Linked DNA regions of Homo sapiens: regions 2, 3 and 4 are each linked to region 1. Evidence: fine-mapped expression QTL. A gene starts in region 1. Each other region holds a variant in brackets. All regions are shown on one strand. Distances are between the middles of the regions. Region 1 holds the start of NCOA7 (nuclear receptor coactivator 7). Region 2 overlaps NCOA7 (nuclear receptor coactivator 7). Region 3 overlaps NCOA7 (nuclear receptor coactivator 7). Region 4 overlaps NCOA7 (nuclear receptor coactivator 7).

What was found. PIP is the estimated chance that this variant, and not a neighbour inherited with it, causes the effect. A credible set is the group of variants that fine-mapping cannot tell apart.
Region 2: its variant is the best candidate, but not a certain one, in a credible set for the expression of NCOA7 in T cells (TOPMed, PIP 0.69).
Region 3: its variant is the best candidate, but not a certain one, in a credible set for the expression of NCOA7 in naive CD4 T cells (Schmiedel 2018, PIP 0.66).
Region 4: its variant is the best candidate, but not a certain one, in a credible set for the expression of NCOA7 in whole blood (TOPMed, PIP 0.66).

The regions. Positions count from the first base shown.
Region 1 is chr6:125,788,457-125,793,659 of GRCh38, reverse strand. It overlaps NCOA7 (nuclear receptor coactivator 7), which reads right to left and starts at 2,700. Exons shown (of 16, transcript NM_181782.5): 1 at 2,593-2,700. RefSeq lists enhancers at 2,118-2,217, 2,413-2,913, 2,914-3,414 and silencers at 2,438-3,277, 3,868-3,967.
Region 2 is chr6:125,829,999-125,835,201 of GRCh38, reverse strand. All of the region lies in intron 2 of NCOA7 (nuclear receptor coactivator 7), which reads right to left. Among named protein-coding and RNA genes, the nearest start is that of NCOA7-AS1, 14 kb to the right of the region's middle. The variant A/G (reference allele first, on the strand shown) is at 3,095.
Region 3 is chr6:125,844,014-125,849,216 of GRCh38, reverse strand. The region is part of intron 2 of NCOA7 (nuclear receptor coactivator 7); the gene reads right to left. Among named protein-coding and RNA genes, the nearest start is that of NCOA7-AS1, 28 kb to the right of the region's middle. The variant C/A (reference allele first, on the strand shown) is at 2,891.
Region 4 is chr6:125,851,007-125,856,209 of GRCh38, reverse strand. NCOA7 (nuclear receptor coactivator 7) reads right to left here. Exons shown (of 16, transcript NM_181782.5): 3 at 970-1,190. Among named protein-coding and RNA genes, the nearest start is that of NCOA7-AS1, 35 kb to the right of the region's middle. The variant T/C (reference allele first, on the strand shown) is at 2,609.

The DNA of each region.
Region 1 (5,203 bases):
AGGAATAGAGGTTTCTAAAATACAGCCTTTAGGAAGATAAAGAGAGGAAATCCAGGTCTTGGATTGCATTCTGGTGGTGCTTGTGGGGGCGGAGTGCTGGGGGATCAGGAGGTAGGACCCAAAAGTGAGTCAACCAATCCCAGAGGCACTGCGCATTTGGTTGTAGGACACACAGAAGAGAAAAATACCTCTTCAAATCTGAGATTAGAGCTTTTATTTGACTGTGATTCCAAAGCCAAAGTAATAGCAGTTAAACTGAGCAGTTAAAGGCTCAACTCCTACTTGTAAAATGAACAAATAAGTGCTTATAAGTAACAAGGTAAAGAGAGCTTACTGTAACCAAAGGGGAGGGCTTTTTTGAAAAGCTTAAAGTGTGCAAGGAAGAGCCAGGTAAATTAATTGCTCAATACCCTGGGTTACAAATTTAAGAAGTGTAAAATGTAATTATCTTTATTACAGGAGGGAATTTTGGCTTTGTTTTAATAAATCATAACAAATTAATTTTTTTCATAAGTTCCCTCCCACTGTTGGTTCCTGCAGTCTTATTAACTTTTATAGGAAAGTTTTATTTCCTTATCCATCTAGGAAGAAAATAAGTAGGTTGGAGAAGCAATAGTAATAAAGTATGGCCTACCATATTGTGTAAAAATAAGTCATTTGAGTAATATGAAGTGAAGATGGTAAAGATGCATTAAAATGTCAGAAAGAAAACCTGGGAGCATGCCCAGATAATATTGTTAAGCAGAGACTGAAAGAAGTTCACACTGACTCATGAAATTCATGTGATGGAAAAAAGATGAAATCAAAACAGAAAATGTCATAGTGTAAAAATAAAGCAAATAAAGTTTGATGCAGTTAACCTTGTTTTTCTTTTTTTTTTTCAAAATGATATAACATTTTAAAGCAGGAAGACACTGTATCTTGCAAACCCTCATTTCACAATCCCCTGGCTGTCAAATTTGGAAACTGATGTGTTTCTATACCGAGGAGAAAACAGTTTAAATTGTGTATCTATATCACACATTTTGAATCATTTAAGAATCACAGACACTTCTACATGTTTTATTTCTACTTTTGCCTGTGATAAAAGACATGATAATTAGATCAAACCTGAAAAACTCAACTCTAAAATAAGTGAATACATCACTTATTAACCAAATCATTGTTTCCTCTGGCGTAACTTACAATTTTCTTTAAAACACGACTTTTACTTTTTAAATTGTGTTTGAGAGCACAGTTGAAGTTGGCATGATTACCAGTGAGACTGGAAATTTTGCAAGCTTAGACATGAAATGAACTTAAGAGTTGGGGAGAATTACCTCATAACCTTGATGACATATTACAGAAAGATAGCATATGGTCCTAAAGATGTCAGAATTGAAATATAAATGTTAAAATAACTGAGTTTGCCTATTTATACAAAGAGGCAATTTTTGAAATTCAATTAAATTTCACCGGCTACAGAACAATTCTGTGATTCTAAATTGTGGTTTTTAGATGAAAGCTTGAAACACAGTTCATTCATTCAACAAATAACTAATGGGTACTTATTCTGCATAAGATGCAGAAGATTACAGGATTTAAAAAAAAACAGATTCAAGATTCTGTCCTATTTGAGCTTATACTGAGTCACTTCTCCAAATCTCTATACCTAAGTGACTATAAAATTGGAGCTTACAGTGATGCATTTTTCAAAACTTTAAGCCTTATTGCTGAATATAAAATAAAAAATGATAGTCTGGGAAGAGGGAATCTTGCCAAAAGCTCTGATGTATAAACTTTACACCTAGAGGAGAAAAAAAGCATTAATACATAACCAGTTTCTGAGAAATACAGAGCATAACATCGAGTTGGAAGTTAGGCTGGGCACAAGGCTGCCTCTGCTGGCTGACCCGGTACATCTTTCCAGCAGAATCTCAACTCCCGACACCTGTATCAAAGTTGCCACTCTTAAAACACATCCCTTCACGTAAGCAGAGGCTCCTAAATACTCAGCACAACAATATCCCAGCCTCATCGATCTCCAGAATAATCTGACTTCTAGAAGGACCTTCTCTAAATTGGCCCTAACGTGTTGACGGTAAGGGTTTGCCCCATCGATTTTATATACCAACTAGCTAGCTCTGAAATACACAAAAATCCACAGCGACTTCTACATGCCACTAATAACCCTTTGCCTGTCTACATGTTTTGGCTAGAAAGATGGGAAGAACGCATCTGCTAATCCAGCCGGAAAAACACAGTGACATATTTCCACCTGAGCTGCTGAAAATCCAACGGTCTTCTCCCCAAATAAGCCCCATGCCAACCTGTCCTCCCCACTCTCGTACTGGCGCGCACCCCCACGAGCCCCCCAAGGGGTGGGCGGGGAAGGGTCAATCTCTCCTTCGCCCCCGCTCGGCCTCCCGAGCTCAAGCAGAGGTTTTCAGGTTCACAGGGGGCTACGCCCAGCGCCATTAGCACACCTCCGAGCGCTCCACCGAGCCCCCGGCGGGAGGCAAGTTTGGCCGGTCCTGGACCCTGCTCGCGGCCTCTCGGCGGCAGCATCAGCGGCGGGCGGCGGCGAGGGCTGGGCCCCGCCTCACCACCTACCTACAGGGCGGGGGCGCCGGCTCCTGGGGTCCGGGAGAAGGGGATCGGTCGCATGCATTTCTGGGAGCGGTGGCCTCTGCTGCTGGGCGCCGGGGAGCGCATCCTCTCGGCGGGTGGAAGGAGGGGTCAGGGGAGGACCGTACGCCGAGGAGGAGCAAGAGGAGGAGGCGGGAGCTCCGAGGCGCGCGCCCGCGGGGCCCCGCGTCCGGATCGGGTGTGCGCAGCCGCCGCAGTCGGGGTGTCTTAGGCCTCTTCCCACGCGCGACGCCTCGCCAGCCCCGCAGCTGCGCCCCCCGTCAGGGCATGGGCCGCTACGGGGTCCCGGGCCCGGCTGAAGGCGGGCAGTCACGGGTGGCGCGACGCTGTGCAGACGCCCGCCTCTAGCTCCTCCCGGCCAGTGGCGCGCGCTGCGCCTCACAGCGGTTGCGGGGGCCTGGGAGCTCGCGCCGGGCTCTGCCGCTCGGACTGCAGTTGCGGCATCCTCCCCGCCCCCCGCGACCTCCGAGCTGGGAGGCTGGGCACCCCGGCTACCCGCGGCTGCTGCAGCCTCCGCTGCCGCGATCCCGGCGGCTCCGCCCCGGAGAGCTGCGCGTGCGGCCTCCGCAGGCCTCGGCCCTTTGTGGCGCCTCCCGAGTGCGGGCGCCTTGCTGCCCCAGCGAACCGCCGCCTGGCAGCGGCACCTAGGAGGGTCCTCTTACCTCACCCCGGGCCGCTTCCCCCTTACAGTTGGCCCGCCTGGCCCCTACTCTTCGTGGGAAGTAAGGCTTTGACAGCAGAGCAGGAGTTAGAGCTTTTCCCCAGCTTTAAAGCCCTTTGACTTTCCTTCCAGCTCAGGACCGATGGCCACAATAAATTCATCCTGTGTCCCTTCTGGCGTTGCGTTTAACAGAGGGGCCCACCATCTCCTTCCCCCTCCCGTTCCCGGTACACCATCCTGGATGCTGCCAAATTGCAGTCATTACAGCAATAAGAACATAGCAGTTGGGCCCTCCAGCCGACTCTTGGCAGAGACTCGAGAGAACCTTGGAGGGGGAAGGTTTGCATCAGCTGCGGGGCCTGTGCCTGTGAGCTCCCCATCCCCAGTTGGGTGCTGTTCCCTCTGCGGTCCCATGACCAGCACTGCAACATGACTAGGAGGATCTGGCCGTGGAGTTCATTCACTCTTATACGCAGAAAAATATCCCAAGGAAGGGCCTGCAACTACTCTGTTAACAGTGTGTTACAGGCCTTCCACACAGATAAACTAGATAGCAGCCTCCTCTGGGTTGTTGACGCAGCTTAAGCTGTAATAACCTCTCTGGAAGGCGGAGCAAAGCGTTAACAGTGGTGGCTTTGGCATTTCAGCAGCAGGTGGTCATGTTATACTGTCTTGCAAATGTGGAATAATTGCCCAGTTTTGCACTAAGCACGTATTAATTTAGACGTCAGGTTTATATCTTTGGGATTTGAATGTAAAGATGTTGGATTTTTTTTTTCTGTAGCCATTGTGTTATTTGTAAATTGTTTAGCATTTAGTAAGGGAAAATTAGGTTCCTAAAGTATAAAGAGCTGATTGCATTGTATCAAAGGAACATGGTTTGAGATCTCCAGGGAAGCTGAGCTGCTCTCACAGTTCTTTGATGAGTGCTTTTATGATTTTGCAATCTAAGGTTATTGAAAATCAGGCAAAAGAAAAACATGTTCCCTGGCAAGGACAAATTGTGACTAAATAGCTAAGATTTTTTGAGATAGTTCTTTTAAGCAAATTGAAGGTTGGGTGTGAGGCCCTGTGGGAGCTGCACTGCGCTTGTCCAGGAAGCACCCAGTGGGGTGTGACTTGGCTGCTTCCTGACACTGGTTGATCTAGAGCCCCACTTTATTTTCAAAAGATAACTATTATTATTTATGATATTTTCCCAAACTTAGAATTACTTGATTATAGGAATATGTATGTACATATCTGATGTATAAGTAACACGTTGAAGTCACTTAGGAGAATTTGGCAGTTGCTTACTCTTTAACAAAATTTTTAAGTTTTGAATGTAGTTTCTGAAGGAAGTGTCCATTGACTTACAAGTTTTCCCTGTTTCTCATCCTTTTACTATCAAGAGGCCCCTGTTGTTTTTCTCTCTATGGACTCCATGTTTTGTAAATAAATTAAGCAGTGATGTTTTTATTAGACAAAAACCTATAACTGAGTATGAATTTTTAAAGTTGTGACCATCAATTATAAAACGTCAGTCTTCTGGCCAGGCGCAGTGGCTCACGCTTGTAATCCCAGCACTTTGGGAGGCCGAGGCGGGCGGATCACGAGGTCAAGAGATCGAGACCATCCTGGCCAACATGGTGAAACCGCATCTCTACTAAAAATACAAAAAAAAAAAAAAAAATTAGCTGGGTGTGGTGGGTCCTGTAGTCCCAGCTACTTGGGAGGCTGAGGCAGGAGATTCACTAGAAACCGGGATGCAGAGGTTGCAGCGAGCGGAGATTGCACCACTGCACTCCAGCCTGGTGACAGAGCGAAACTCCATCTCAAAAAAAAAAAAAAGGTCTTCCAAAGATATTGCAAGGAATGTAAGAATCCATCTTTATGAACTCCTCTAGGACTGCATGCTGTATCATATGCTTCTTA
Region 2 (5,203 bases), 42 kb before region 1:
GATAGCTGTTGTATCTTAAGATTAGATTGTGTGCCTATCAAGGCTGCATTATTGGGGAACTCAGGAAATTTTAAAGATTCTGGAATAAGTGTTCTACCTCTTTTAGCCTGAGAAAAGAAAAGAACTTTTATCTGGGAAATATACATCCTTTTAAATTATCAGGCTGCAGAGACACTAAAATGAGACTGCAATCACATCTTACTTCCCGCTGGAGCTATGTATTCATCTCCAGAACCAGCCTGCTATTGCCACAAGCAGCTATAAATTAATCTAATAATGCCACACCAGACACTATAACTTAATGCATAGCCAATCACTAATCAATGCTATTTCTGTAAGCCAACAAGAATTCCTGGCACATCACTTTGTATCAGCCCACTTCCTATCTCTTTTTTGCCTTTAAAAATCAACTTGTAACTGCTGCTAATCAGAGTGTATATTCAGGGCATCTTCAATCTATGCTCCTGGGCTACAATCCTCAAGTTTGGCTCAAATCAACTCTACCTGCATTAATTTTGCCTCAGCTTCTTCCTTTTAGGTCAGCAAGACTTCAGTGAGGTCTTAAAAGAAACACGCAAGCTTGAGATATCATTGGTCTGCTAAAGTAGAGTGAGATGAAAGCACAACTCTGCTAAGAGAAAACCTCTGTCTGTGGCTTGCAGCAGCTGAGAGTCTGGTGACCCTGGTTAAATAACAACCTCTTAAGACCTCAGTAGCTCACCTCTACCAAGAAGTTAGCTTAGGTTGTTTTTAAGATATTTTCCATCCCTAAATGTCTATAACAATAAACAACTAAGTAAATAAATGAATCTAGATCATATGGGGATTATCTGATGAACAAAAATCTTCCGTTTTTTTAATCAAACTTTAAAGAATTTTCTTTTACCTACAAGGGATTAATTATACTATGTTCACATGTATTTAATAAGTATTATTTACATTTTAAAGTCACTTTAGTTTTCTCTAGTGATGATTTCAGACACACAAATAATTGTATCATGAGAACTTTTTATGGTTAAAACCAAATATTTGTTTTTATTAAAACAAAAACAAAAATAAGCTGCCCACATATTTCTGTTAATACTCTTCCACTGTGTATGAAAGTACATCTTATTTTTAAAGATCATTTTGTCACGTCTTAATAATCCTACCGACCAAATGTTTTTGCAAGCATTACGATTTTAAAAAAATAATAAAAGCTTTGCAGTTTAACATGACAATTTTTTTAAATTCTATTATTATTTCTCAGAGGAAACAACACTGTAGAATCAACAAAAAGGAAGGAAGAGACAAAGGGAAGAAGGGCCTTACTTAAGCTAGTGTTAACTTTATAATTTCTCTGCAGTTAGAAGTTAGGGGCAAAACTGAGTTTTGGGGGAGTGAGAGGAGGTCAGGGATATGTCTTAAAGCTGCACCAGCTAAGCAACCTGACTCCTTTTATTAGAACTGCATGTTTATTTGGGGTGGCCTGTGGAACGTGCTGATGGCAATGGCACAGGTGAATGGAGAGAGAAGCCACAGCCCCCAAAGCACCCCTTGCCACCACCCTGATTGAAACAAGACATCAGCCTCATTTATTCCCTCCCCCTGTCCCTCCCCCTCCCCCCCTCCCTTTCCTTTCCTTTTCTTTTGACAGAATCTTGCTCTGTTGCCTAGACTGGAGTGCAGTGGTGTGATCTCAGCTCACTGCAACTTCTGCCTCCCAATTCTCCTGCCTCAGCTTCCCGAGTAGCTGGGATTACAGGAGCCTGTCACACCTCGCTAATTTTTGTATTTTTAGTACAGACAGGGTTTCACCATGAGGCCAGGCTGGTCTCAAACTCCTGACTTCAAGTAATGCACCTACCTCAGCCTCCCATAGTCCTGGGATTACAGGTGTGAGCCACCAAGCCCGGCCAGCCCCATTATTTCCAAGAGTTTTAGCTGTCTGCCTACTCAACTGTTTTATGTTTGATCTTCATAATAAGCAAATTTATCTGTCCTGGTTTCCACTTTTTTCTTAATTTCTCATTTTCTCTTTAATGAGGTTAAACTATGCAAATCACTTACAATTTATGACTTCAAATTCACAAATTTCTAGTGCCAATAGTTTCACTCTGCGGCAACACAAACTGGAGCAGAAGTTTTATTTTGAAGATATGTTTCATTAAGCATGATTTCTGGAAGTTGAAAAATAACTTACATAATATGCAAGAAAGAAAACTATTCTGAAGTTCCAGAGAGAAACTGAAACGATTTGGTGGGCAGAACACATGGCAGGGGAGAAAGGAGGTCTGGAGACCATGCCATGCTGTGACACAACAGTGTGGCGATGTCCCACAGACCTGAAATCTGGAGCAGCCGAGGCTGCAGAAAATAACAAGGTGGCTGAGAGATCCAGCGGTTCCTCCTGTGTCCTGCCAAAGAACATCCACTTTGTAGCAGCACTTCCCCAGGAGCTAAGCTTGGTGCTGAGTTTCACTGTAACTGGCTGTGAATTCTGAACAGCCCACCAGCCAAAGCTGATATAAAACTGTGATCTTTGAGCATCCTTGGTATGCTAGGCCCTTAAGGGCCCTAAGTGAAGGCTCTTCACTGCCCCATGACAAATGGGACTAGTTAAAACCAATCATTTGTGGCCTTATGGACTCATTTCCTCTATCCAGGCTGCAAACTTCATTTCCCCTATCCAGGGTACAAACTTCAATCTCTAAGTAGCATTACCAATGAACATGTGTGTGTCCTCTTGCCTGGCAAATAATAAAATAATTTACTGCTTGTTTTGTTCATCCCTTAAGTAGTTAAAAGAGAGTAAAGTATTTGGGGGCTCCCTAGCAGGGGGATAAAAGCAACCAAAATTTGACCTGGGTAGGGTTAGGCAGGTTTAGCGCACAAAATGTCAAAGTGGCAGAGAGCCTCCTAAAAATTATTATAGCCATCACTCAAGAGGAAATTGTCCAGACACATGATCAAGAGATTGACTGTCATGGAAGAAACCTGAAATGATTCCCTAGTGCCTTTGAAATTATTGGTAGAAATTTTGTAGATTTGGATTAATTATTTTTTTTTATTTTTAGGTGAAGATTTTAACTGTCAATCAAAAGGGAGATACGGA[A/G]GAAGTATAGAGCAGATAACACTGTGAAAGAATTGACGCAAACAAGCCCAGTGTGGCGGCTCATGTCTGTAATATGTTCTTCCGAAACAAATTCTGTCAACTCCATCACAAATGAGTCTGTGGAAGAACCAATGCTGAAAGCATCTCAGTAAACAAATATGGCCCAATAAACTCAAGTTTCTAATGGGCAGGCATATAGGGGATGGCGAGAAGGCACATAATAGAGCTCAAACGAAAGCAAAAAGCAAATGACAGAAGTCTATAGGAACAGGCATAGAAAGTGAAAGCTCAGCATATGCAGAAGTTTGTAAACAATGCAAAGGAAAACTAACGAGAAAATTATAGGGATGTTGAGAGGCTGAAGAGGCAAGAAGCAATAGGCCCACTGGGTGAAGTTAAGCTGTAAGAGAGAGAAAACAGGTCTAGTCCAATCCTATTTTTAGCTTTAGCAAAGAGAATAGGCAAAAAATTAAAAAGGATGACATATCCATGGCTAAGAAGAAAGTGAAATCCAGGATGAAGTCTCTAGTCCTGTCAAAGCAACCCTCTGAGTTGCAGTACCATTACCAGTAATCTCAAAAGAATCACTGAGAAAGAAAATTGGAAGTAGGAAAAAAAAAAAACAAACAAACCTGGTTTTCAAAAGAAATAAAAAATTTGGAAATGACACACCGAGTAGCTTGATATCAACTGTCAGAAAAATAAACTGATAGCTCATTAATCATTTGTGATTACCTGAAGATAAATTATTGACTTCTAGGAACCACTATAGGTACACTAAAATGAGTGACTCTAAATGAACATAATTATCTTTTTTGGTTGGGCTAGATTTGGCATATTGATGGGCCAGTCACAGGAGGTAGTATAGAAAGATTTCACTAAGGCCCCTGAAAATGTCACTACTTTTCTTAAGGTAAGATGGAAACAGCTGGACTAGAGAATTCGGTTAACTTAGAGGAAACTGATTTATAGCAAACTGAAATACTTAACGATAACTATTTCATGTACTGACAGTACTAATATGCCATAATGCATAAAGCTTTCCAATTCAGCCTTTTAATCAACTACTTGGATAAGAACATAACACATGCTATTCAAGTTGCATATCTGACGCAATCTAGGGAGGGCAGAAAATATGTTCAATGTTAAAAATCAGGCTTCAAAATTCCTGGAAAATAGAATAATAGACAGAAAACAAACAAGACAAAATTCCAATTCAGATGGAAAAACACTTTTCCCCCCTCACTATGAGCATAATTTCTGTCAACAAAATAATGAAATGTGGTGTTTATTAATAAAAGTAAAGGATAAGTATATATATCTATACACACACACACACACACACATACACACACACACACACACACACATATATATATATATATAAAATATATAGAGAGAGACACAGGGCCTCACTTTGTCACCCAATCTGGAGTGCAGTGCCATGATTAAAGCTCACTGCAGCCTTGACTTCTCAGGCTCAAGCAATCCTCCCACCTCAGTACCCCAACCCCTAGGCCCCTGCCAGTAACTGGGACTACAGGCACTCACCACCATGCCTGGTAATTTAAAAAAATTTTTTGTAGACACAAGGTCTCACTATGTTGCCCAGGCTGGTCTTGAGCTTCTGGCCTCAAACAATCCTTCCACCTCAGCCTTCCAAAGTGCTGGGATTACAGGTGTAAGCCACCTTGCCTGGCCTAATATTCTTATATTTGCATTAATCAGGTCATATCAAGATGGCAAAGAATCTGAAAACTCCATCTTAGGTGGAGAGATTTAGAAACTTATGATACTCATCCTGGAAAAGGTTCAGGGATGGAAAGGTACGATACTCATCCTGGAAAAGGTTCATGATGTTGTCTTTAAACACATGCAATGATAATATATGAAAGATGGATTTGATTTATTCTGTATGGATTCGAAGTAACAAGGAATAAATAGAATAAGCTGAAAGGAAATAAAATTTAACCAAAAATTTAAAAACAACTTCCCTCTAACAAGAGTTTTTCAAGCAAGAAATAAGCAGCCTTGAGGGTCCTTGAGACATTGTTATAGCTCGAAAAGTTCAAGTCCAGGCTGAAAACATTCTATTTGTCAAAGGCAGTA
Region 3 (5,203 bases), 56 kb before region 1:
AGGGGCTCCTGCTAAAGAAATCATTTGTAGTAGCTGAATGAAAACGGGTTTTCTTCTGAAGCTTTTTCTTTTACAAAAGGAAATGAGTTTGGGGCACTGGCAGTAAGCAAAGCCAGGGTCTTGGGCAAGTTCCTTTCTTACATGGCACACATTAGGTACTCAGTAAATATTTCTTGAATAAATTAATGGATAAATGAGCCCATGTTCTGAGATATGCTGCTTCTTAATCTTCTGAATTTTTCCACTTTAAGTTGATTTAAATGTTCTGATTTGGTTGAGATGTGCTCTTCTACAAACAGCCATTTCACAGCTTTCTCTGATTAGCAGCATGGTCTCCAAAATGAACTCCCATCTTCTTATTTAAGGTATTTGATTTTAAAATAAAGTTTATTAGCCACACATTATTTATTTATTTTTTATTATACTTTAAGTCCTAGGGTACTTGTGCACAACATGCAGGTTTGTTACATAAGTATACATGTGCCATGTTGGTTTGCTGCACCCATCAACTCGTCATTTACATTAGGTATTTCTCCTAATGCTATCCATCCCCCAACCACCACCCCCCGACAGGCTCCAGTGTGTGATGTTCCCTACCCTGTATCCAAGTGTTCTCATCGTTCAATTCCCACCTATGAGTGAGAACATTCGGTGTTTGGTTTTCTGTCCTTGTGATAGTTTGCTGAGAATGATGGTTTCCAGCTTCATTCATGTCCCTGTAAAGGATATGAACTCATCCTTTTTTATGGCTGCATGGTATTCCATGGTGTATACGTGCCATATTTTCTTAATCCAGTCTATCATTGATGGACATTTGGGTTGGTTCCAAGTCTTTGTTATTGTGAATAGTGCCGCAATAAACATACATGTGCATGTGTCTTCATAGCAGCATGATTTATAGTCCTTGGGGTATATACCCAGTAATGGGATGGCTGGGTCAAATGGTATTTCTAGTTCTAGATCCTTGAGGAATTGCCACACTGACTTCCACAATGGTTGAACTAATTTACACTCCCACCAACAGTGTAAAAGCATTCCTATTTCTCCACATCCTCTCCAGCATTGGTTGTTTCCTGACTTTTTAATGATCGCCATTATAACTGGCGTAAGATGGTATCTCATTGTGATTTTGATTTGCATTTCTCTGATGACCAGTGATGATGAGCATTTTTTCATGTGTCTGTTGGCTGCATAAATGTCTTCTTTTGAGAAGTGTCTGTTCATTCCTTTGCCCACTTTTTGATGGGGTTGTTTTTTTCTTGTAAATTTGTTTGAGTTCTTTGTAGATTCTGGATATTAGCCCTTTGTCAGATGGGTAGATTGCAAAATTTTTCTCCCATTCTGTAGGTTTCCTGTTCACTCTGATGATAGTTTCTTTTGCTGTGCAGAAGCTCTTTAGTTTAATTAGATCCCATTTGTCAATTTTGGCTTTTGTTGCCATTGCTTTTGGTGTTTTAGACATGAAGTCCTTGCCCATGCCTCTGTCCTGAATGGCATTGCCTAGGTTTTCTTCTAGGGTTTTTATGGTTTTAGGTCTGACATTTAAGTCTTTAATCCACCTTGAATTAATTTTTGTATAAGGTGTAAGGAAGGGATCCAGTTTCAGCTTTCTACATATTAGCCACACATAATTTAAAATGTACTGAACTACAGACTGCTTTAATTAGTATTAAATTCACAGTTATATATGACTCTGTTCTTAATTTTAAAATTTGGGATCCATGTGTTTTTGAAAAATGCACACTTTTGAAAAAGACGTAAATACCTTGTATGGCATTGCTCAATGTGGTAGCCACCAGCCAGTCACCGATAGTTACTACATTTAGTTAAAATTGAACTTAAAATTATTCACTTGTAAGAAATACATTTCTAGACTCATGTCCTAGTGGTTACTCTATTGGACAACACACAATACAGAATACTTCCAGCATCACAGAAAGTACTAGACAATATTGATCTAGAGCTATAGTTAGTCCTATTTGCAAGAGATTAGAGAGAAGGCTAAAGATACAGTATTTAAAATGTAACAAGTATATGCAGAAAATATGTGTACAAGGGTACATACACACACACACAAATACTTTTTATTATGTTCTCATTTGTACATTTTGAATTTTATACCATGTACAATTACATATTAAAAATATTTTAAGTAGTCTTTGAAATCTCTCTCCTACTATAATAATCTAACACACAAATATTGTCAAATTTTTTAAACTGAATTTTACTTTTCAAAAACTTATGACAAGCTTTAAACAGCTTTCTTCTAACAGGAACTACTAAGTTGACTAAGGAACCAGGCACCATGCTATGTACTTCACAAATATTAGCCTATCCTCACAAAAGCCCAATGAGGTAGGGAGTTTTATCTCTATTTTACAGATAAGAAAAGGAAGGCTGAGAAAAACTAGGGCCATTTCCCAAGGTCACAGGGCACAGTTTAGTTGTGGAGCGGGAATTCACAAGCCTAGGTTACAGCCAACTGCCACAGGGCCTCCCCGAAGCCCCTCTAAATGTGGCTATGGCATATATGTAAACGTCAACTTTAAAATAAAATCCAGTGGACTCTGAAAATTCTACAAACTATGTGGGGGCCTGAAAATTTAGTGGGCTTCAATGGATTGTGCACTCACAGAAAGACTGGAACACAGATTTGGGTTCTGGGCTTGGCTTTCTCTGTAATCAGCCCTGCAACCTGCATTGGAAATATGATAAACCCCCTGGGACTTCTAAGTAAACAAAAGCAAGAGGCTAACATGATTTTCAAGGTCCTGTCTGGCTCTAATAGTTTGCCCTTGGCGGAGAAGAGTAGGAAATGTGTTAAAGTTGTTTTGATTAAAAAAAAAAAAAAAAAATTTTTTTTTCTTTTTTATATCCAAACTAAACCATC[C/A]CAAGGGTCTTGCACTTCCCTATGTTTTTTCTAAGTCTCACATTTGATTACATTTTCCTTCCACTGCAGAATTTCTAGCCCTGGAAAAGTCCAGAAGCCAAGACAGTCAGAAGCCCATTCCTCTACAAAGGCTATTAAAAGCAAAAATAAAAACAAACAAAAAAACAACCAAAACCAAACCAAGAACAACAACAAAACACTGCTCTATAATTTGGGGCTAATAGCTCCAGGAAGAAAACTAGAAAATATCAAAATTGACCAGCCATGAGAACAGACCCATGAAAGTCTTCTTTCATACAAACTTTCTCCTTAAAATCGCCTCTGTAGGGAAATAGAGTACTAATATAAAATATGTAGCTATAGCATTATTTCATGAAAAAAAGATGTAAAACAGTATTGCAGCATGACTCCATTTTTGTGGAAAAAACAACAACAAAAAAAGCAAAATCCCTCAAGACCAAATATACACATAGATATGGATATATACAGGTTCGGTGGATGTATGAGAAAACGGTTGGTCAATGAGTGGGGAGAGAAGAACTTGCACTTTTTTGTTTTTTTGAGACAGAGTCTTGCTCTGTCACCAGGCTGGAGGGCAGTGGCGCGATCTTGGCTCACTGCAACCTCCGACTCCCTGGTTCACACGATTCTCCTGCTGAGTAGCTGGGATTGCAGGCATGCAGCACCACCATGCCCAGCTAATTTTTGTATTTTTAGTAGAGATGGGGTTTCACCATGTTGACCAGGATGGTCTCTACTTCCTGAGCTCGTGATCTGCCCACATCAGCCTCCCAAAATGCTGGGATTACAGGCATGAGCCACCGTGCCCAGCCAAGAACTTTTACTTTATAGGTATGTAATGTGGTGGTGTTGAATCTTTTGTACGGTAAGCATATATTACTTTTGTAATTATAAGGTTAACAAACAACAACAAAATTAAATATCTGCAGCTATGGCAACATTTTGCTACCTCTTGTTTAGTGGTTCATTCTTTCTCCTGAGTCCAGCTAGCTTAGTAAATTGCTGGACTGCAATCCCACATCACTTTTTTTTTAAATCAGATAGAGCTGGTCTGCCTCCCTCCAGGGACCTTCTCTTGGTTCTTTTCTTGGCTGTTCTGGCTGCAGCCTTGTCATTGCATTGTTCTGACCTTCAGGGCCTAGGCTGTTTTTTCCTGGTCGTCTAATTCTGACTTCTGCCACCTCTGACAATGGAACGAGCTCAGTCTTTGGGCAGAAACGTTTGTGTTTGAATCGTCTTGTACTTTGGATGCACATCCTTTGGCGAGTTACCAAATCTAAGCCTCAGGTTTGTTGTCCTTGACATAAAAATAATAGCCTCCAATGGGTTTTTAATGGTGATTAAAGCAAATGGTACAGAGAAAGCTTACTTTACTATTAAACACAACCTGTGCCTGGTTTCCAGGAAGAGCTTAATAAACAAAAGTTACTAATTTGTTGTGCTGCTGCTGTTATTCTTACTTGGGGATTTCAAAGAATCCAAGTAAATGAGAGAACATATAAAGCACAACATATTTAACACAAAAAAGAAGGTATGTGACAAATGCCAGGTATTAATATATGTTCATGTCCTTTTTCTCACTCTACATAAATATTAATTGTATTTAACTCTATGAATTTAGTCATCAATACAAAGCCACTTATTATTTCTAGAAGAACATCACTCTTTGAACTCCATTTCATTTTGTCATTTCATAGTTTTCCATTTCCACTGAAAATCCCCACTTATGAGCCATTATATGCCAAATTAAGTCAAACTTAAAGGCAAAGGGAGAAAAACAGTTAAAACAACAACTCACTTGAAGAAAATTTTCTCTTGGAATTCTGGCCAAATAAAAACAAAAGATTTAAGAGTAATCACTGGAAAAACCTGTGGATGTTCCTGATTCTAGTGTAACCCATGGAGACATGCATTCTTTTTTTCCTTTTTTCTAATCGTGATAATGAGATTCTTCCCACTGCTAAAACTGAAATTCATCAGTTAAAACGAAAATACTCCGGCTTCAAAGAACCAATACAGTTAGGAAAAGAGATTCTTTGGCTTTGTGTTCAATAACTAGCAATATATCCTTCAGATGGGTACACATACACACAACAGCATTTCCCCTAGCCTCAAAGAACAACCACATTCTAATAAAGACAGATAAACAGAATGCCAATCAGGGGAAACCACAACAATTCAATTTTCCTTTTCTAGGATTTCCTTGTACTGTTAAAACAGTGGTGGGTCAGCAGGTCTTAGAAGACCCCGGTAACCAAAGTGTGGGGGCCAGAAATGGCCAAAACCAAATTC
Region 4 (5,203 bases), 63 kb before region 1:
GACACTGCTCTCAGTTTTCTCTCCCTTTCCTAGCAATCTCAAGTATGCCATAACCTGTATGCCACGCCAAGTTCTGATTCCTGGTACCCTTATTTATTTCATTTATTTGCATTCTCTTTGAAACAAAATCCATGTATGCATGTGATAGAACAGTAGGTGTGAGATGGGTGATTCAGGTCAAGCTAGATACGCCACTTCTGCGAATGTAGTTTCAGATGCACGGGTTATTCTGAGAAACTATATAACACTATGGACTCATTTCAAGATTCCCTTTAAGATTCTCAAGTGTCTGAGGTCAGGAATTCAAGACCAGCCTGCTCAACATGGTGAAACCCCGTCTCTACTAAAAGTACAACAAATTAGCCGGGCATGGTGGTGGGCACCTGTAATCCCAGCTACTTGGGAGGCTGGGGCAGGAGAATTGCTTGAACCTGGGAGGCAGAGGTTGCAGTGAGCCGAGATCATGCCATTGCACACCAGCCTAGGGGACAGAGCAAGACTCTGTCTCAAAAAAAAGACTCCTAGGTGTTTTTTTTTGTTTGTTTTTGTTTTTGTTTTTTTAACAAAACAAAAACAAAAACTTGCTAGGCCAAGTCTCCTCCATTTTCTACTGTCTAGCAAATGCCAAAAAGTACAGGCATTTCTATCAGCATATTTATGAATATGTCTACATACATTAAGAAAAATATTTCTCATAAAGAGAAAGTGACTCTTCATTAGATAAACGTTTAGTAGTACACAATACATTCTGGGCACTGTGCTAAATGCTGGGAACACAAATTTAAATGAGACATTATTTTAGTGTGATCCCCTTACACAAGATTATGTATGTAAAGCAAGGGCCAGGGGCACATAGCAGCTGCTCCATAAACTGTTACCATTATTATGATCAATCACAAATGATAGTCTTTTAAAAATTCTTATAGATTTTTTAAATGAAAATACTGCAGTAACGCCATGAATACTCACCAATACTATAATATCTCTTTAGTTCTGTACGCCTGATCTCCTTTAACTGATTACTTTTTCTCTTTTTTTTCTCATCAGTCATATATTCCTCTTCCACAGCAATGTTGCACTTGTCTGGCTCTAAAACTACTGTATTATTATCTTCCTTCCCAGTATGAGTCCTTGTAGCTACAGCTGAGGCTGTCTCTGCATTTTGTTTGGCTTGTTTTTTCTTTTTCAGTCTAGGAAAGAGGGAAAAAAAAGAAAAAACATTGGAGAGATGATTTGCTGGTAGAAATCATATTAATTTCACGCTGCTGGACTTTGAAAACTAATGAACTGATACAGAAAACACTTTCCTTATAATATGGTTCATTACATGTATTGTTCTTTTTTCTTTTCCAATAACTTACAAATTCTTACATGGAGATCTGTGGCCTTTCTTCAACTTGATATAGTCAATACTATATCTCATAAAATTATTGAGAACTGCCATAGGCCTGAGGAAAAATGAGATTCTTCCATAGGCTAAGAAATGTTGAGTATTTTTAAAAATCACAATATATGGTTATGCTACTAGAATGCCATGTTTGGAAGATTACATTTTAAGAAAATGTTTCTGGTTTCAGTGGTACTTTTGACTGATGGGCAAGCACATTTGTAAAAACAAGTCCTTTGTAATTGGCTCACATACTGAGTAAAAGGATTTGGCAAGGTGTGAACTGGGTCACATAGGAGTAATTCTTTTCCTTTAAACATATGGCAATAGTAGTGAAGAAAGAGCTGCATTTCCTAAAATAGAAAATGCCATAATGACAATACATGATTTTCATTATGATTACTGATAGCTGACTGATTATTTGATTATTAGTTAACATATTTGATGTTACAAATTCTTTACTCCTGAGCCAAATATGTGTAAGAGATAAAGTTAGCATAATTCACTGAAAGCCAATACCTCAAAATATTTTCAGTGGACACATCACTCTGTAATTAATTGATATGTCACTCTGTACTTGATAGTCGAGAATGTTTTTGCCTTATCAGAATCTAAGTGCTTTGAGAACAAGGGCCTTGGCCTCTAGTATATGTTGTACTCTACTCATATATAAATATGTATTTTAAAATTATGTCCCTTTTCCCTGTGCCTAGATAGAAAGTATCTAGGCACAGTTAGATTTCTCTCATACATTTCTATTTCCTTCACCCTTTTGAGCATATGTCCAATTTGATGTTGGGCAATGGATAAGGACCTGTTTGGGTAGAAAAATGAGATAACTGTAGGATACACAGGGACTGAAATTTGATATTTCACTGCATTGTTCTGTGATGTCAAACAAATCAATTTGGCAGGCTAGAGAGGTCCCTCCCTGAGGCTACAACACTTAAGAGAACTCTGACCTCAGGCTAGGAATTTCACGCCTTGAACCTTAGTTTTCTTATATCTTAAATGGTGATAACTGTACTTCCTTAGGTCTCTAACAGGATCTTTTATTAGGCTTAATTGACATAATACATGTCAACATATAACACAAACAGAAACAGAAATAGTAAAATATCCCCTAATACAATCATAAAGACATGACAACTAAGCATGGTAAGAAAAATGAGACATTCAGCTTTGGAGATAAAGGTCCCATATTCCAACAAGGTATTTTAA[T/C]TAGGCTATTATTTACTGAACACTGAGCAGCCAGGTTCTTAGATATTCATTGGCTAACAAATTAGTATATGGCATAAGAGACAGAGCAGCAGAGGAAAAGTCATAGATGAATATACTCCCCATCTCTTAGTTTAGCTATCTTTTAATGTTTGTTTAAAAGACCAAAACTGGAAGTCCTAGCCAGAGCAATCAGGAAAGGGAAAGAAATTAAGAGCATCCAAAATAAAAAAAGAGGAAGTCAAACTATCTCTGTTTGCCAATTATACAATCAAATACCTAGAAACCCTGAAGACTCCTTCATAAGATTCCTAGATTTGATAAATTCAGTAAAGTCTCAGGATACAAAATCGATGTACACAGATCAGTAGCACTGCTATACAGCAACAATGACCAAGCTGACAATCAAATCAAGAACTCAAGGACAGGCAGAGAAAAAAGAAAGAGAACAAAAAAAAGAACTCAAAATATCTCTATAAGGAAACTTACAAAACACTGCTGAAAGGAATTGTAGATGACATGAACAAATAAAAATACACCCCATGCTCATGGACTGGAAGAATCAATATTGTGAAAATGACCATACTGCCCAAAGCAATCGACAGATTCAATGCAATTCCTATCAAAATACCAACATCATTTTTCACAGAATTAGAAAAAACAATCTTAAAACTCATATGGAACCAAAAAAGAGCCCAAATAGCCAAAGAAATCCTAAGCAAAAAGAATAAATCTGAAGGCATCACATTACCCGACATCACATTACCCAACTTCAAATTATACTACAAAGCTATAGTTACCAAAACAGCATGGTACCTGTATAAATGTAAATGTATAGACATTGCAATGGAACAGAATAAAGAACCCAGAAATAAAGCCAAATACTCACAACCAACTGATCTTCGACAGAGCATACAAAAACATAAACTGGGGAAAGGAAACTCTATTCAATAAAGGGTGCTGGAAAAACTGAATAGCTATATGCAAAACAATGAAACTGCATCCCTTATCTCTCACCATACATAAAAATCAACTCAAGATGGATTAAAGACTTAACTCTAAGACCTGATACCACAAAAACTCTAGAAGAAAACCTAGTAAAAATTCTTCTGGGCTGGGCGCGGTGGCTCACCCTATAATCCCAGCACTTTGGGAGGCCTAAGCAGGCAGATCACAAGGTCTAGAGTTCGAGACCAGCCTGATCAACATGGTGAAACCCCATCTCTACTAAAGATACAAAAATTAGCCAGACATGGTGGCACGTGCCTGTAGTCCCAGCTACTCAGGAGGCTGAGGCAGGAGAATCGCTTGAACCCAGGTGGCGGAGGTTGTAGTGAGCTGAGATTGTGCCACTGAACTCCAGCCTGGGCGACAGAGAAAGACTCTTTCTCAGAAAGAAACAAACAAACAAAAAAACTCTTCCGGACATTGGCCTAAGCAAAGAATTTATGACTAAGACCCCAAAAGCAAATGCAATAAAAACAAAAATAAATGGGACCTAATTAAACTAAAAAGCTTCTGCACAACAACAACAAAAAGAAAAAGAAATCATGAGAGTAAACAGACAGAATGGGAGAAAATATTTACAAACTATGCATCTGACAAAGGACTAATATCTAGAATCTATAAGGTATTCAGTCAGCAAGACAATAGCAAATAATCCCATTAAAATGTGGGCAAATGACATGAATAGATATTTCTCGAAAAAAAAAAAGATATACAATGGCCAACAAACTTATTTTTTAAAATGCTCTATATCACGAATCATCGGGGAGATACAAATAAAAACCACAATGAAATACCACCTTATTCTAGCCAGAATGGCTGTTATTAAAAAGTCAAAAAACAATAGATGTTGGTGTGGATGTGGTGAAAAGGGAACACTTATACATTGCTGGTGGGAATATAAATTAGTACAACATTTGCAGTATGGCAATTTCTCGAAGAAATTAAAAGTATATCTACCATTCGATCCAGCAATTGCATTACTGGGTATCTACCCAAAGGAAAAACAGTCATTATACGAAAACAATACCTGCATGTGTAAGTTTATTGCAGCACAATTCACAATTGCAAAGAAATGGAATAAACCAAAGTGCCCATCAACTGATGAGTGGATAAAGAAAATGTGGTCTATATACACCATGGACTACTACTCAGCCACAGAAAAGAACAAAATAATGTCTTCTGCAGCAACTTGGATGGAAATGGAGGTAAGTATTCTAGGTGAAGTAACTTAGGAATGAAAAATCAAATATCACATGTTCTCGCTTATAAGTGGGAGCTAAGCTATGAGGATGCAAAAACATATAGTATGATAATGGACCAGAGGAGGGTGGGATGTGGCTGAGGGATAAAAAACTACATATTGGGTACAATGTACATTACTCAGTTGACAGGTGCACTAACATTTCAGACTCCACCACTATATGATTCATCCACATAACCAAAAACCACTTGTACCACCAAAGCTATTGAAATAATCATATAATTAATAATAAAAAAATAACCAAAAATCACCAAACAATTGGAGACTCATAAAAAGGAATTATTTTCATTAAACATATTATTTTCTATCCTGATTTTAACTTATTTTTC